Homo sapiens: one gene and its partner. The protein of the gene in region 1 interacts with the protein of each later gene in a pairwise test. Each region holds a gene or a part of one and is shown in the gene's direction. Other genes may lie near its edges.

Region 1 (9,230 bases):
TACTTTGCTTTTAAGATTGTTATTGCTTCTGTTTTCACTGTAATGTGTTTGATAGTGAAAGCGATCACCTGAGGGTAACCAAGTGGCTGTTTTTAGGAAGTGGAGAGACTGATTTTGGACCTCAGCTCAAGAACCTCAATAAGAAGCTCTTCACGGTGGTCGCCTGGGATCCTCGAGGCTATGGACATTCCAGGCCCCCAGATCGCGATTTCCCAGCAGACTTTTTTGAAAGGGATGCAAAAGATGCTGTTGATTTGATGAAGGTAGGTCTCTGAGGGAAGGGCCAGGGGAGGAAGGGTGGCTGGGCCTGTCTTCATTTATTTTGTTTAAATTTTGTTGTTATATTTTTCTACAAAATAATACCATGTGATTGCTATAGAAAACCCCAAGAGTTCAAATAGGTATAAAGAAGAAAGTAGAAATAGCCCACAGTCCAGCTCTCTAGAGACACTACCAAATCTTGGCGGCTCTGCTTTCTGGCCAGTCTTATTACATCACAAACGCAGTTTCATATTGATGGCATCGTGCTACACCTAACGTTTTTCTAACTTACTATTTTTGTTGAACAATTTTTCAAGGAAATAACTTTCATGTCAATAAATATGCATTTATACTAGTTGTATGATAGGCACATATTATTCCATTGTATGGATGTACTGTATCTTATTTCACCAATTTTCTTTTTTTTTTTTTGAGACAGAGTGTTGCTCTGTCACCCAGGCTGGAGTGCGGTGGCGCAATCTTGGCTCACTGCAACCTCTGCCTCCCGGGTTCAAACGATTCTCCTGCCTCAGCCTCCTGAGTAGCTGGGATTACAGGCACATGCCACTATGCCCAGCTAATTTTTGTATTTTTAGTAGAGACAGGGTTTCATCGCATTAGTCCGGATGGTCTCGATCTCCTGACCTCATGATCCACCCACCTTGGCCTCCCAAAGTGCTGGGATTACAGGCATGAGCCACCACACCTGGCCTATTTCACCAGTTTTCTAATAGTAGATAATTAACTTAATTTTTAAGTTGCCTTTTTCTGCTGTTATAAATAGCAGGCAGTGAACATTCTGTTGCTCGTGGGCATTTTCATTTTTTTGCCACTATAAACAGTATTGTTGTGGACATCCTGGACTGAGCTCCTGGCACACAGGGAGAATTTCATACACATTTAGGAGACAATTTGCTAGGTGATGGAAGTTCCAGATGTTCATTTTGCAGGATAGTGCCACAGTAGTTACACCATTTTATGGTCCGGGCAGCAAATATCTTGGAGTAATATTAATTCTTTACCTTTAATTTTCCAGTCATTCCATTCTTTTTTCTTGGCGGCCTCTCTAAGATGTAATCTTTGTCCATTTTCCCTGCCAAACGCATGTCCAGACCCTCTCTGATTCACCCGCGGACTCACACAACCTCCCCATGACGCTGTTCTCTGACAGCCTGGCTCTTGCCAGTTCTTCCCACAGTTGCTTTACCAGATACCCTGCTTCACTCCATCCAGCAGAGCTCAGGGTCCCCTCTCTGATCTACAGAACTGTTCTCAAGGTCCTTGCTCAGGCATGCATATGCACACACGTGCACACGCATACACACGTATGCTGTATTTGTCATATTTAAGTACTTGGTCTCCATTGATTCTAGTTCCTTGAGCTTTTTATCCAACCAGAAGATGTAGTTCCCTCCTAATTCAAACCCATACCGTATGCTCAGGTTTTTGTGACAATTTCCACTAAAAGTAATTAAGAGAAAACATGATGTCATCAAATGGTGGACTCTAGGGTTTTTCTTTTCTGACTAATTGATACTCCAGCCTCACACCTGTATTGATTCTGATAATTAGTGATTCAGTTTCTTTTAACAGAGAGGAGCAATAACCCGTGCCGTGCATTTTGTCGTATGATCATAGGCGCTGAAGTTTAAGAAGGTTTCTCTGCTGGGGTGGAGTGATGGGGGCATAACCGCACTCATTGCTGCTGCAAAATATCCATCTTACATCCACAAGATGGTGATCTGGGGCGCCAACGCCTACGTCACTGACGAAGACAGCATGATATATGAGGGTAGGTTCTGCGAAGGGGAGATGCCGGGACGGCAGATCCTTCCCCTCTCTCCGCATCTCATCTCTTATTGTGGGATATGTTGACAAGACACATCTCTCGTGCTTCTAGTTCTCAACTCTCAGGTAGGAAGAATAACGAGTTCTCAGAAAAGTAATGCAGTTTAACCAGTCTGAGTTTTAAAGCTTTCTGTTTCCAGGAGTGAAACTTCCATGGCTCAGGAAAAGGCTAAGTAAAATCACTATTTCTATTTACTACTACTGATAATGAACTTCAGGGAAGGAGGGGGTGGTGTGAAGTGTTATTAATAATCTCATTTAAAATACTGTGAGGCCAGGCACAGTGGCTCATGCCTGTAATCCCAGCACTTTGGGAGCTCAAGGCAGAAGGATCGCTTGAGCCCAGGAGGTCGAGGCTGCAGTGAGCCATGATTGTGCCACTGCACTTTTGCCTGGGTGACAGGAGTGAGAGAGAGATGGGGGAGGAAAGAAAATAATGTTGAGTGTGGAAAAGAATCACTGGATACAAATATGAAACCTTTTATTTTGATTAAAAGAATTTCTGTGCTATTTGCATGCTTTAACGTTGTCCTTCAAGCCTGTCTTTGAGGTTTTTTTTTTTTTTTTTTGAGTTTGAGTTTCACTCTTGTTGCCTGGGCTGGAGTGCAGTCGTGCGATCTCAGCTCACCACAACCTCTTCCTCCTGGATTCAAGCGATTCTCCTGCCTCACCCTCCCAAGTAGCTGGGATTACAGGCATGTGCCACCATGCCTGGCTAATTTTGTGTTTTTTAGTAAAGACGGGGTTTCTCCATGTTGGTCAGGCTGGTTTCGAATTCCCGACCTCAGGTGATCCACCTGCCTTGGCCTCCCAAAGTGCTGGGATTACCAGCGTGAGCCCCCACGCCCAGCCTGAGGTCTTTACAGGCACTGGAATAGGGGCCAGTGAACTTCAGCCTGTGCATTACACCTAGCCTGCCTCCCACTTTTGTGCAGCCCACGTACCAATCGAGGTGGCTAGTGCTGTGAGTCACAGAGACCAAGCTGGGGTGTCCCTTTACCACCCAGCATTGCTGCCCCAGACCTGCACTGGTGGTCACTACACAGGGGTGACTGTTGGCAATGAGCAGGCACCCAGCCATGGAATTTCAGTCAGCAACTCAGGAGTTGCTTAGCCTCCAGCAAGCTGCCCCATTGAGATGACCAGGCTCTTGGGAGGAAAGAAGGGTGCACCAGGATCTAGGGGTTGCTAGGACAAGAAGTGAAACTGACCTGCGTTACCCTACTACCCCCACCTGCCAGCCTGGCCCACCAGGACCCTCTTCCTCAGGCCACTAGCTTTTTGTCCAAGTGTGAGTCTAGTGGATCCCAGATGGCCTGCCCCAGACACTTAGGACTAGGTGGGTCAGGTGTTTTCTCTCCTCATGTGTAAGTATCTACATAATGTCTTTGATTTTGCTTCTTGGCCAGCAAAACCTAAAATATTTATTTACTCTCTGGCCCTTTACATAAAAGGTGTACAGATCTCTTCGCTAGAATATCACAAGTCTAGTCTTTTTCAGCTATTCGACAATTCACGTGACTTTTAAGTACGCTACTTAGTGGCAGCGTTCTGTTGTAGAATTGTAGTTCTTCACAGTCTTTCTGTTTTTTAAATGAATATGAAGCTCTTACGGTGAGTCTGATGTGGTTGCCAGTCCTGTCTGTGCTCCTGCTTGTCCTTATTTTGCTCCTGCCTGGTATCCATCTTGTGCACAGTAGGCCATTCCGCTCTGTGAAGGGTCTGTCCCCTCCCGCGGCCTCTAGGACAGGCTGCCTTGAGTTCTTCCTCCCTCTCCTGTATCCTTAAATTCTCTCCACTGGGTCAGTCCTCTCAGCCTGCAAAAGTGGGCACAATTCTTCCTCCAGAAAGTTGCCACTCCTACCTGTGGTTACTATCTTCCCATTCTTTATTCTTTCCCACAAACTTATGGAAAGAGCCACCTGCATTCCCTGCTTCTAGGGATCCTCCTTTCCTTCCTTCTTTAGTCCATTCTGCCCCATCTCCCTCTCTGGCCCATTCTAGCCCCCTCTACTGAAACTCTCCTCACTGACCCCTGCCCACTTGTTCTTTCCCATAATCACTATCTCAGTTCATGGCCTGCAGATGACCCGGCATCCAGGCAGAGTCCCAGATGCATCCCTCGAGGGCCCAGTCCTCCTCTGCCCTCTTCATTTGCCCACCTTGCCCTGTTCATTGAACTGTGATGCTTTCTGTTGTTACATAATACCCCTCCAGTTATCCTCACCTCTCTTCTTTCCCCACATTCTCCTGGTTTAGGCCGCTAGCTTCATATGGTAGTTTGTTCTCCATAGGAGAGTTTCCTTTGTAAGGCAAAAATCTAATCACTTAATTCCACTAGAGGACTTAAAATCCTTCACTAACCAGCAAAGTCCGTGCAGTTTGGCTGGCCCCTCCTGCCAGCCCCTCCCCGGACATTCTCCCATCTCCCCTTTCTCCTCATCCTTCCGGTGCCTCTCCCACGTGGGATAAATGGCCATTCCTGGAACAAGCTTCCCCCTCATGCCTCTTCGCCTTTGCAACTGCTGCTGTGCCAGCTTGCACCAGCCTTCCCCTCAGCCACATCCTCTGCCAGGGCATATTCACCCCTGACACAGCTCCTTGGGCCTCCGCGTCTGGGATGGCGTCCCGGAGCCCTGAGACCTGGCGGTGCTCTCCCTCCTGGACCCCGCCACACCTTGCACGTGCCTGTGTCACGGCCCTTCAACCCCGGGCACTGTCAGCACTTACTCCCTTGCCTCGGTCACCGCAGTGGGAACTCACTGTGTGCAGTTGCTCTGACTTTCCTTTCTTGATGAAAGCAAGAGTCTCTCAGTAGCGCAGCACTCTTTACTCTCTGACGTCTCGCTACTTCCCCTCCTGGCTACTCTTTCTTTTTCATCCCCCATCCTCTCCTAACTTGTGTCAAGATGGCTGTGGCCCGCCAGTGTGCTAGAGACCAAGCCCCCACCACGCACCTCCTCTTGGCTCCTTGGTCATTCTGCAGCGTTTGAGAACATGCTCATGATGTGTGCGCCATTGGTTACACCCCTCTTCTTGAAGCTTTCTCTGTCTGGAAGTTCTTGCCACCGTGTTCTCCCGACTTCCCTCCTCTCTCAGGCTGTTCCCTGGCTGACACGTGCCTGCTCCCCCATGTGGGCCACAGTGTTGGGGTCCTCCAGGCGTCACCCTCAGTGCTCTGCTCCCCTCTTACCCTCACACCTCACACCTGAGTAGCTTCACTCAGCTCCTTGCTCCACCTAACTCCCAAACCCCACATGTTCGACTGTTGTTTTTTTTTAAGAGACAAATTCTCACTGGGTGTGGTGGCTCACACCTGTAATCCCAGCACTTTGGGAGGCTGAGGCAGGAGGATCACTTGAGCCCAGGAGTTCAAGACCAGCCTGGGCAACGTAGCAAGACCCCGTGTCTACAAAAAAATACAAAACGTAGTCAGGTGTGGTGGCATGTGCCTGTAGTCCCAGCCATTTGGGAGGCTGAGGTGGAGGATCACCTGAGCCGGGGAGGTTGAGGCTGCCGTGATCTGTGATTACACCACTGCACTGTAGCTTGGGTGACAGAGGCGAGACCCTGTCCCAACAACAGCAACAACAACAACCAAAAGAAAAAAACAGAAAGAAAAGAAAAAGACGAGTTCTCACTATGTTGCCTTATTCAACTTTTTATTCAATTTTCTTATCTGGTTGTCTCACACCTACTTTAAATTCAGTCTGTCTAATACTGAATTCATGATCTTCTCTCTAGGCCTGTCCCTTCTGCTAAATTTCTTGTCATTATAAATAATACTCTTTCTCCCTGAAAATAATATTTTAATTACTATTTATTGAGTGCCTGCCGTGAGCTAAAGTCTTTAACAACGTGATATCCATGTAAGGTCTCTGATTCTCAGCCTGCTTGTCAAGTGAAAAACGGGGGCTCACAAAAGTGAGGAAACCTTCCAGACCACATCCCCCACACTGCGGCCTGCAGCTCACTGCACTCTTCTCTTCTGCTGGGCTCTGAGTGGCCCCATCTTGCCCTACCCCTCTCTCCCTCCCACCAGGCTCCCGCCAGCCTCGTTGGTCCCGTCTGGGCTGATTCTGTGCCTCTCCAACCGGTCCAGGTCCTTGCCTCCTACCAGTCTGCCTTCCATGATGCTCTGATAGCAATTCAGCAATATGTGAATCTCATGGTGTCTTACTTTAAGCCTTCCAGGACTCCCCACAACTTTCCTGATAAAGTTCAGGCTCCTTCACTTTGCTCACGGAATGAGTGGCCCGGCCTCTGCCTCTCCAGGTCCCCTCCCCCCACTTTCCCCTCCCAACCACCAGTGTCCAGCCATCCGAGACCACCTGGGTCCCTGCAGCAGGTGGCGGGCTCCTGCCTCCTTGTGTGGGCCCTTCCCGCTCCCTTCCCACTCCTTCACTTGTTTGCTGACTTCTCTTCTCCCAGAATGGCCCAAGCATTCCATCTTCTAGGAAGCCCTCACCGCCGCCACCCCGTGTCCACTGCCCGTGTGAGCACACAGGCCACTCTGCTACAGATGGACGGCTGGTTCTTGTACCCGTCTCCTGGGGTGTAGGAGCAACAGTATCTCTCTAGGGTCTAAGTCCATGAGTGAAATTGCTGAGTGTTGTGGGCAGGTAGACTACATTACAAGTGACAGATTATTTTCCAGCAAAATAAATTTACACTTCCACCAGCAATAGATGAGATTCTTAACTTTTAGCTCTTCAACAAAAACTTGAAATTCTCAGACTTCTTAATTCACTAGCCAATCAAATGGGTGTAAGATATTATCTTATTGGGGTCTTAATTTGCATTTCGTATTACTAATAAGATTGAAAATCTGTGTTTATCCACCATTTGAGTTTCTTCTGTATTATATCCATGTATTTTTATTGGTGAAAAGTTTTTTGTTATGTAATAATTGATACACACAATACAGTATGTTTGGGTATACAGTATGAAATGTAACAACAAAACGACCCCGCCGCTGTCCACCCAACTCAGCACCAGAACAGTTTCAATGTTATCCCAGTGTTACTCTAATCCTAGTCAGTAACCCCTTTTAGGGTAACTGTGTTGCAAGCACCTCTTCACAGTGGGTGGCTTTTGCCTTTTTCTTTATGGGCAGAACTACTTAATGTAAGGAAATGCCACAGTGTTTTGTTTTTCTTTCCTTTTTCTTTTTCTTTTCTTTCCTTTTTTTTTTTTTTTTTTGAGACAGGGTCTCCACTATTGCCCAGGCTGGAGTGCAGTGGCACCATCTCAGCTCACTGCAGCCTGCTTGCTCAACATCAAACTATCCTTCTGCCTCAGCCTCCCAAGTAGCTGGCACTACAGGCGTGTGCCACCGCACCTGGCTAATTTTTTTTTTTTTTTTTTTTGAGACGGAGTCTCGCTCTGTCACCCAGGCTGCGCAGTGGCGTGATCTCGGCTCACTGCAAACTCCGCCTCCTGTGTTCACGCCATTCTCCTGCCTCAACCTCCCGAGTAGCTGGGAATACAGGCGCCTGCCACCACGCCCGGCTATTTTTTTGTATTTTTAGTAGAGACGGGGTTTCACCGTGTTATCCAGGATGGTCTCGATCTCCTGACCTCGTGATCCGCCTGCCTCGGCCTCCCAAAGTGCTGGGATTACAGGCATGAACCACCGCGCCTGGCCAATTTTTGTATTTTTTGTAGAGACGGGGTTCCGCCACATTGCCCAGGCTGGTCTTGAACTCCTGGACTTAAGTAATCCACCCACCTCAACCTTCCGAAGTGCTGGGATTACAGGTGTGAGCCACCATGCCGCCCGGCCTCACAATGTTTTATTTTCTCATTGGTTTGGCTGGTTTTGTTTGATTTTAGATCCACCAACATGTTTGCCCATTTGTTTACTCACCTGTTCTTTCTTCTCAAATGTTCCTTCTAAAAGCATTTATCTTCTCTTCTTCCTGAAGTTATTTTTAGAAGTTATTTAAGGGCAGCCTGTTAATGGTCAACTCAGTTTTTACCAACAAGTGTCTTTTCTTTCATCCACCTTTTCTGTAAGTCTGTTTAGCTGAGTGTGGAAATGGAAGTGGAAAATCATTGTCTCCCCCATTCTGCAGTCTTCTGCCTTCCATCCTTGCTGTTGAGAAGTTTCCTGTCCGTCTACGTGGTTCCTGCTTCGGAGTGATGTGTCTTAACTCTCTGGCTGTTTTTCAGATTTTCTCCTTACCTTTGATATATTGCTGTTTTAATATATTCTGTCCAAATGCAGATTTCATTTTACTTGTCCTGTTTGGAATACATTGCGTTTTTGTTTATGGATTCTTTGATTCATTCTGAAAAACTCTCCCACCCATTATTTCTTCAAATAGGCATCTCGTTCATTCTTATTCTCTTCTTCTGAGACGAGCGGACTTTTGTAAACCTCGTCTTTCCATCTTCCTTATCTCTTCTGCATCGTCGTGTCTCTCTGCGTGGTGTTCTGCATAATTTCTTAAGATTTGTCTTCCAATTTTCTAGTTTTTTTATTAACTTTATAAAAATCCTGTTTGTTTTGTGACCTTTGGTTAGGAGCTAATATTTACTCACTCTTAATCTGAAAATAAACAAAGCAGTGAGCATAAATCGAGAGCGCTTTCCTTCCGGGAAGATTTGCATTTGTTGCTCTTGGGAACCACAGGATCATACCAGGTTGGGGCCATTTTTAGCTCAGCTTGATCCAGGAGTCTCAGGTTGGGCCCCGGCCTGCCTGCGAACACTGCGTCTCCACCCAGAGCAGGCCTGCCTTTGGAGCTGGCTTACTTCCTTTGCTGTATTTTCAGGGTTCTGTTTCTCATGTGCAGACACACTCATACACACTCACACCCCGGTTTCCATTAACCACTGCAACTTCAGCAATGCCACAGAATTCTGTTTTGTGAAAGATCTAGTTATTCCCCTGCAAGAAGGCCTTTCAGAGGGTATGGTCTGCCATACGGCCAAAAGTAGAAGCATGTGCAGGGACGTTTTGCTAGCCATCTTCACACTGTCTTGCTTGCTTCTCTCTCCCTTACCCTCCGCCCCCAAATGTTTTCTTCTTCCTACATCTTCTCCCCACCTCTTCAGGCTGTCTCCACGTACCTCATTCAAGTCTTTTCATTCTTGTGCAGAGCAGTTCATCCTCT
Region 2 (9,230 bases), on another chromosome or scaffold:
AGTTCAGGCTGGCGAGGGGGATATTTTTTTCTTTCGCTAGTTCTTGAGGAAAGGACAACACAAGTGGGTGGGCGAAAGTACGAAGATATTTTCGTGGCTTTCGCCTTCCTATTTGCTTTCTTCACATCCTGATACTGCTTGACTTCAGAAAGCTGTGCAAGATTTCTCAAAGTGAAATATCTTTGGTAAGAGGCAAATCTTGCCTCAACGCTTTGCTCCTGAGACCGCCTTCTTGGAACAGTTAAGTGAAACTTCCTGCCAGAAAAGTTCCATATTTTTCTTCATTTTGAAGTAACAGAACAATGGAGGACCTGGAGGAGGGCATGAAATTTGTGCAATGATCAAATATCATTAGATTTATAGTGAAAGAGATAATTGCATCCCTTTGGTTATCCTGTGATGAGTCCCCCAAATTCTAGTGAATGACCATTACCCAGAGGGATTCCCATAAATCAATTTTCCACTGGGAGGCAATTATCTAAGTCCCTTTCTTGACTGTCACCTCTTCTTTCTGTAGTGGGCTCTCAGAAGCTTCTTAGACATTTTGCTAAACGAGGTTTTGCACAATGGCTAAATGAAAAGAAAATAGGACCAATTATATCTTTTCATCTAATTACCTTTCCAGAAATTCGGTCACTTGTGAGAACAACAAAGAAAAAGGGATGAAGTGTTTCTTCTAGATAAGAGAAACAGTGTGTCAGATTAGATGTTTCATCATTTTTCCTTTTAGGAGGTATAATGTTAAATGGCAAAAAGAAGTGGGGGAAGGACCATCACAAATATATTTTTTAGGACAAAATATGCTACATTTCTACTTTACTGAATGTAAATATAACATCAGATTTTATAGTATCAGATAATATACATATAATATCAGATTTGTGGACTTACAGGTATACTGAAGGCTCAAATGGCTTTTACTGATTCATCTCTTAAATAATGGCAAATCACACATAAGAAACACATGCACGTATTTATTAATGAATGTTGGTGATGAGTCACTAAGTTTTGCAGGCTCTAGGAATAATCTTTAAATATTGGCTGGAATTTTATACTTGATGTCTTTCTATATTGCCAAATGGCTATGAAATAGAGCAATTTAAATAAAGAAACAAAGTGATTGAGGATATATTCCCTATGTGTTTTAGTCAGATCAATAAGACACAGTTATGCTTATGGAAGCGTGCTGACAAACAGTAATTACAGAGCTGAGGATCATCTGTTCAGTCTTGAAAATAAAAGTTTTATTCTGCTCATAATAAAATGATTGCAGCATCAGAATGAGGAAGGAAAGGTAGAATGAGGATAAATACAATTTTAGAAATGGTATAGACTTTGCAAATCACCACCTCTTCCATTGATAAATTTAGAATCTAGAGTTGAGTTAGATATTGACACTGGTTCTCCAAGAGAAAGGTAAAATAAAAGCAATCGGACTCTTTAGAGCTTTTGTTTATGGCCTGTCTGGGCCCTTTGTTGTAACCCTGTCATGCCCTTATGCTGATTACCTTCTTGTAGAACAAGAAGTATTGACTAGAGAATGAATGATGTGTAGTCCCTAGCCCTTAGGAAACTCTCTCAAAGAGCAATGTCTTTAACATATGAATTCTGTTTTTTTCCTCCTTTTACCTTTCCCTTTCCCTTTCTCTATTTTTCACCATCTCTTTTGTTTCTACCTCTTTTGGTCTCTGTGCTTGACACTCTCTCCTCTTTCTGTCTCTCTTTGTATCTCCTCAATCTCAGGCTTCTCTGCAGAATGTCAAACAAAGATCGACACATTGATTCCAGCTGTTCGTCCTTCATCAAGACGGAACCTTCCAGCCCAGCCTCCCTGACGGACAGCGTCAACCACCACAGCCCTGGTGGCTCTTCAGACGCCAGTGGGAGCTACAGTTCAACCATGAATGGCCATCAGAACGGACTTGACTCGCCACCTCTCTACCCTTCTGCTCCTATCCTGGGAGGTAGTGGGCCTGTCAGGAAACTGTATGATGACTGCTCCAGCACCATTGTTGAAGATCCCCAGACCAAGTGTGAATACATGCTCAACTCGATGCCCAAGAGACTGTGTTTAGTGTGTGGTGACATCGCTTCTGGGTACCACTATGGGGTAGCATCATGTGAAGCCTGCAAGGCATTCTTCAAGAGGACAATTCAAGGTTAGTGTCGGACCTGGGAATACTCTCCCCACTTCCAACCTCACATGATGGGTTTTTGTTTTTCCTTATTCTTATTCTCATAAGTCAAGTATCATAGTTTTAATTCTCTCTTGAGTAGAAAATGGAAATAGATTACAATTGATAGTGGAAGATTTATAGAATAAAATCCCCCCAGATATACTCCATATCTATTAATTTTCCTCTTACTGTTAAGCTTTAATGGTGCAAGGATAATAAACTTTGGGTAGAGTTTACAAGAGCATAGTTATTATTAGAGCAATGTGGGTCTATATAGCAACTGTACAAATGCACATTGGACTAACAGTGTTTTTGACCCCTTTGGATCTTCTTACAGATGCATGGAAATAATAAATACTTTAGACCAGTGATTTCCAAACTTGAGTGTGCATTAAAATCATCTGGAAATCTTGTTAAAATGCAGATTCCTGGGTCCTACCTCCAGAATTTCTGATTCATTAGATCTGGGGTGGGGGCCTGCCTGAGATTGTATATTTTTAACAAATTTTCAGGTAATGCTGATGATGCTGCCGGTCCAGGGACCAATTTTAAGAATCACTGCTCTAGACAAATTTAATTACCTACTCATCTTTCTTTTTTCCTTATGGTTGGATATACTTTTTCTAACTTTTAAATGAATTTATATTAAAAAAAACCTTCCAAATTATACCAATAAAATGGCATTGAATGATAAAATATACCTCCAACATATATAAGTGATATATACCCCAAACTTCATAGATTTCAGATTTATAAATAACATTATTTCCGCCATACAGTGTAGAAAAATAGGACTGAAATTTGTTTATGCCCTTTTAAACTGGTAATCTACAGATCTAGAATTCAGTTCATGAAAAAGCTATAGATATATATTCTGGCAAAAAAATTAGATTTCACGTTTTTAGGTCTCTTGTAATTCACTTTTGAAGAAAATAGGGGAAGAAAAAAATATATTTTGAGGATCCACAGCACACCAATGGTTCTGCTCAGTGGTTTACAAAATGTGTCTTCCTAACAACCAGTTATGGACACAAAGTCTATCTTCCCACATATCAGTGGTTCTCAAGCTTGCCAGCTCATTGGAATCAGTGGAAGACTTAAAAAAACATGCTGATGTCAGGGCTCATGTCCCCAAATTCTGAATTAATTGGTCTTGGGTACAGCCAGGGAAAGGGGGGTTTTTGAAAGCTTCCTAGGTGATGCTTAATGTAAAGGCAAAGTTAAGAAACACTGCACTGTACTGTGTTGTATTATTTGCCAACAGTTCTCAAAGTGCAGTGGCTGTACCAGCAGTACCAGCATCATCTGGGAAAATGTAAGAAATGCAAGTTCCCAGGCCCCATCCTGTATTAACTCAAACAGAATCTCTGAGGGTGGGCCTAGCAATCTGCATTTTACCAACCCTCTGGGTAATCCTGATGCTAATTCAAATTTAGACCCCCTGCTCTAGACCATGCTACTGCTGATTCACCACTGACCATAGACCATCATCATCTAATGGCCCCTTGCTGGACAGAACTGAAACTAATTTATGTGGAGCCTTCATAATTTTGTGACGTACTAGTTTTCAAAGTACAAAAGAAGTAATGTTTGTTAAGTGCTAATCCTTTTAAATATTTTCACAAAACATGATTCTGAAACCCTTTATGTGTACATAGAGCAGTCTCCCACCTTCTCCCCCTTTTTTTTTTCTTTTTGAGGCAGATTTTTACTCTTGTGGCCCAGGCTAGAGGGCAATGGCATGATCTCGGCTCACTGCAACCTACATCTCCTGGGTTCAAGTGATTCTCTTGCCTCAGCTTCCCAAGTAGCTGGGATTACAGGCATGCACCAACACGCTTCTCTAATTTTGTATTTTTAGTAGAGACAAGGTTTCACCACATTGGCCAGGCTGGTCTCGAACTCCCGACCTCACGTGATCCACCCGCCTCAGCCTCCCAAAGTGCTGGGATTACAGGCATGAGCCACCGTGCCCGGCCCACCTTCCCTTTTAAGAGCATCTGGAAATTCAACTCTTCTTCATCAGTTGCACTGAATATTTTAGTGACAATCCTTACTTGTACTGGCTCTCCCTTGCTTTTTTGTTGTCTGTTACATAACTTCCTTGATCTGTGGCTGATGAGAACACAATCAAAATGTTTACTTAGTCAGGTGCAGTGGCTCATGCCTGTAATCCCACCACTTTGGGAGGCTGAGGCTGGAGGATCCCTTAAGGCCAAAAGTTCAAGAGATTAATCTGGGCAACAAAGTGAGAACCCTGTCTCTATAAAAAATTTACAAATTAGTTGAGCATGGTGGCATGCACCTGTAGTCGTGGCTACTGGAAAGGTTGAGGCAGAAGGATTGCTTGAGCCCAGGAATTGGAGGTTGCAGTGAGCCATGATTGCACTCCAGCCTGGGGTGACAGAGCTAGACACAGTCTCAAAAAAAAAAAAAAAAAAAGTTTACCCAAAGCACAATTTCTCAAGACATCATACTCTTACATAGTAGATGAGATACTTAATCCTAATCTTTTCATAGCCTTTCATAGTTTTAAATGAAGAGCACAAAACCAAGTTAGTATGCAGTACATATGAATGTCCTAAACATCTTCATAGCTGTATCTTTATAATTTCTGGCTCATCGTTGCTATATTTATTGATATTTTCTTACAAAAATCTTTCATTTACTGGATTTTTATTTTCTTTATCCTCATCTATAAATTGAAGGCATTAACCTCAGAATACTTAAGTTTAAAATGAAATATAAAATCACATGGAAAGCGAGAAAGCTAAAAACAATGGTCTGTGCACAAGGCTTTTCATCACTTCTGAGCATTTGAGAAATCTCTTCAGTCTATTTGGTAACACTACAAAACTTGAGAATGAAAGCACACCTCAAATCTTTGGGTGTTTACCAGCCATTGTTCCACAGTGTTATAATCCTTATGGTTACAAAGTATATACAATTCAAACTGTTATTAATTTGATTTTGTTAACTCAGTTTACACAGCTCTGAATTTTAACTACACAAAGATAAGCAAATATTTTGGGATAAATTCATGAGCACTGAGTGCGCTGATATAAGCAAGAGGTTCTCAGTGTGAAAACCACTCCCATTTATTCAACGAATATTTACTGAGAACCTGTGATTCAGACAGCAGGCTGGTTGGAGTGTCCTCTTATCCACATTTTATTAAAGCTTTGTTCCCAAAGGTTGTGGATTGAGATGAATTCCTCTAACAAATGTCTCCTGCCTTGAGGAAGTAACAATTTTTAGGGTTGAGGGGATTAAACCCTCGAGTCTTCGGTATGTTTTGTAAAGATAGAATAACAGTGTGAAAAAATTTCCTAATACATGTCTCAAAACATTTTATAGGTTAGACATTAATAGCTCTGCAATAGTTATTTACTGAGCAATAATTAGAATAGAGCAATTGGAATTCTATGCATGATTATTCTTTAGGATGCTGAAATGCTACCAAAAGCTTAACAGAGCAAAGCACAGGGTGATTCTTGGCATTGATGTATGTGCTCAGTTTTACTCCGTATTGGAGAGAGCAAGTTTCAAGGATTTTGAGCAGGAGACAGAGATGTCACTGTCCAGATTAGCACTCTGGACTTGCCCACCTGGCTGTGCTTGTAGCTGGCAGCTGCGCAGCACTTGGTGAGGCTACCCTGCTAGCTACATCATCAGACATCACACTGTGGTGCTCACTTAGCCCCAAAAAGGCAGTGAGGCAAATAAAGGGATTAAATTGTGAAAGTATAATGTAATAATTAGAGCAGTAATTGTAAGGAAGATTGGAACGGCCCCTCCTTTCTGTGGCCAAATACGGTAGTGATAGCAGTTGAACTCCAAAGATGTTGAGTGTGGCCCAGACTCTTATTCCAATGCTGAAGCTGCCTTAGAGTTCATTCTCATGCCTTCAGACAGCATTGCAGCCAAACCACCCTTAACAGATCGTAGTCTCTCCCTCCCCTCCATTAAAGCTCTCCAAGGAAAAGGAAGAGATTATGTAACTCCCCTTGACAACAAGCCTTGCTAGACTAGAGCCCCAATGGACAGGCCGTTACATAAATGTGACTCCTGCCTCACCAGGGCCTGGTTCTACTCTCATTGACTTAAGGGACGTGTGCATCCATAGGCATTTTCATGTACACCATCATCTGTTAAGATCTTTCCTTTTTAATATATCTTCTTATTATTTTTGAGACAGGGTCTCACTGTGTTGCCCAGGCTGTTGTACAGTGATGTGATCTTGGCTCACTGCAGCCTCCACCTCCTGGGCTCAAGTGATCCCTTCCCCTCAGCCTCCCAAGTAGCTGGAAAACAGGCATGCACTACCATGCCTACCTAATTTTTCACTCTTTTGTAGAGACGGGATCTCCCTATGTTGCCCAGGCTGGTCTCAAACTCCTAGCCTCAAATGATCCTCCTGCCTCAGCCTCCCAAAGTGCTGGGATTACAGGCATGAGCCATCTTACTTCTTATTTTAACAATTTATTTTTAGGATTGGTTATCGAGTGTGTAATAAATATATACGTTTAAAAAGTTGGGAAAAATACTTCTTAAACTTGGCACCAAAAGAACATATATCCAGACCATATCTTGAGAAAAGTAATACAAATTGTTCTTTTCAGAGCTGAATGTGCTATTTCTGTTGTGAAAGACAATTAATCATGGATTTCAATGAAAGGTAAATAGAAAGGAATATTTTACTTGTTGACTATTTTCAAGTTATCATTGAAAAACTATTGAATTATGTCAGCATTTAGTTGGGTAGAAGCCAAAGTTTTGCTGTTTTGTTTTTGTTTTTGGCTGACCAAAATACTTTTTACAAAACTTTGACAGCTCTACCCTGTCATCCAATAGGGTTACAGTGGCAGCAGTGATTTCACGTCATTTTCTAGGCATAGTAATTTTGGGGATGTGATATTGTTATTCTTCTGATTTTTTTTCCAATTCCAATTTTGGCCTTAATTCATAAATGATTGGAGTCTGCCTTCTTTCCCTCCTTCCTTCCTTCCTTCTTTCTTTCCTTCCTTCCTTCTTTTCTTTTCTTTTTTTTTGGGAACTTCTCATTAAGAGTTTCCCCTAGACTCTTGTTAAGGAGGCAAGAGAAGGAAAACATCCTTATACCCAAGTATAAGTAATACCCAAGTATTACATATTTCATTATTTAATAGACAAAACACTAGCCTCCTGAAGTTTTTATGTCCATATAATAAAGAAAATAATTTTATAAATAGTTTTCTTTGTGTAGATAATATAGCCATTCTAACTCCTCATTATAGTGCTAGAAATAAAGTATTCTTCTTTCCCCCACATTTAAAAGGTGGGAAATTGTATATTTAAAAATATGAGATTTTAAAAAGATGTTCATTATAGCATCGGTTTTGGATTTATATAAAGCCAGGCCCAAGTCTCAGCCACTTACCAGCTGTGAGACCTTAACCCCTCTTTTCCTCTGTTTCCCAAGTGATGAGGGTTACATGAGAGAATGAATATCGAAGTACTTGACCCATAGTAAATGTACACTAAATTATTAACTTTGGTTGATATTGGGAATATGACTGGGATACCCAGAGGCTGGATGGTTCGTGTAATCTAGCACAGAGTTATCCTTGATGCTAAACTAGAAGGACAGGTATGTCACCTTCCAGAGCTCACAGCTGTCTCCACCCTTTAGCTATGATCGTAAACCCTCTCTCCCTGTAGCCATTTCTCACTGATGGTGCCTTTATATGATTGGAGGCATTTAGGTGAACTGTCTGGAAATTTGTTTAGTTATATTTAGCTTATCGTGCTCAATTAACTTTATTTCCCTGTGAATAAGAATGGGAAACTGCATACATCAAAAAACAAGCCTGAATTTTGGAACTTGCATAAAACATAAAATTCTCAGTTTAGCTTCACTTGTGAAATTTAGGCACTGAAGTAGTAGCATATCTTCCCTGTGTGAGGTGTGGGAGTGACCATTATGGAACTAAGTCCACTCTGAACATTGCAGGACCTAGGACAAGAGTACAGCAAGCACCCAAATACTGCATAGTATATGTAAATATGTTAATGTTATAAATCAAGATACCAAATCACTAAGTGAAATTTGTTCTAGTCTCTTATTTGACCAACTATACCTTCATAATAGCCTGGGAGACTGACTTTTTATTGGTCAGTCTTTGACTCCAAGGAACAATTTTCTGTCAGTGAGAGGCAGTGCAAGGAGAGCTGGTTCATAGCCTGCAGCCCATCCCCTTTCTTTCTCTCTCCTCTATCTCCCAATCTTGTACATAGTGTGGACACCCTTGCCCACATGTCTAAGGCCCAGTGACCCCTTCCAAACAGCTGTTCCTTGACCACGCCCAGGTCTAATGTGCACACCAGAAGGGCAGTTTAGTCCAGTCTAGCTTCCAGAGAACAGACCCAAGAGAGAGTCCCGCTCAGGCCCTGGCACTTCCATGGGCTTGTGGTGATCTAGCCAGGGAGTTTGAGGGTCTCAGGTACTCAGGATCAAGGTGTACGCAGGGGACGGCTCCAGCTGGGCTTTTTTCCCTTCACACTTTGAGTGGGATCTTTGTGCTACGTATACCTTCTAAAGCCCACAGCCTTCAGGCAAGGGCTTTTCTTGTCTGAGGCTAAAGTGGCATTAATGTGAGCCTAAATCTCACCTTAAACATGGGGCATTAAGATTAGTCATTTTCCTGCAAGCCATATGCTAAAGGCATGCGGGCATAGCCCTTGGATCTGATGCAATCAACTGCTTTACTACACTGAATTGTATGACTCCTTCCTGAAGCAGGCAGTGTAGTCCTAGAGGATCTTTCCTGGTGTTGCATTTCTTTTGCCATCATGTGCTGTTTCAGTCTTAGAATGTTTTCAGCCATAGAGAAAATAAGAACTTACAAATTGAGTGTACATGATATGAACTTTCCAAAGGAAACTAATAAAATGTATTTAACCCAAATAGTGTCTAGAGAAAATAACTACCTCAGTTTATAGTAATTGGTAGCTTTAAAACTCTAATATGTTATAAAATTGAAATCCAAAATAATATGGAAATGTCTAAATTGA

What was found.
Region 2: the proteins of BPHL (region 1) and ESRRG interact in binary tests that used the Homo sapiens proteins (3 or more experiments, as listed by UniProt).

The regions. Positions count from the first base shown.
Region 1 is NC_000006.12:3,127,146-3,136,375, forward strand, and holds part of BPHL (serine hydrolase BPHL isoform 1 precursor), read left to right. Parts: intron 1-96; coding exon 97-263; intron 264-1,899; coding exon 1,900-2,053; intron 2,054-9,230. UniProt on the Homo sapiens protein: Specific alpha-amino acid ester serine hydrolase that prefers small, hydrophobic, and aromatic side chains and does not have a stringent requirement for the leaving group other than preferring a primary alcohol.
Region 2 is NC_000001.11:216,670,005-216,679,234, reverse strand, and holds part of ESRRG (estrogen-related receptor gamma), read left to right. Parts: intron 1-1,743; coding exon 1,744-2,159; intron 2,160-9,230. UniProt on the Homo sapiens protein: Orphan receptor that acts as a transcription activator in the absence of bound ligand. Binds specifically to an estrogen response element and activates reporter genes controlled by estrogen response elements.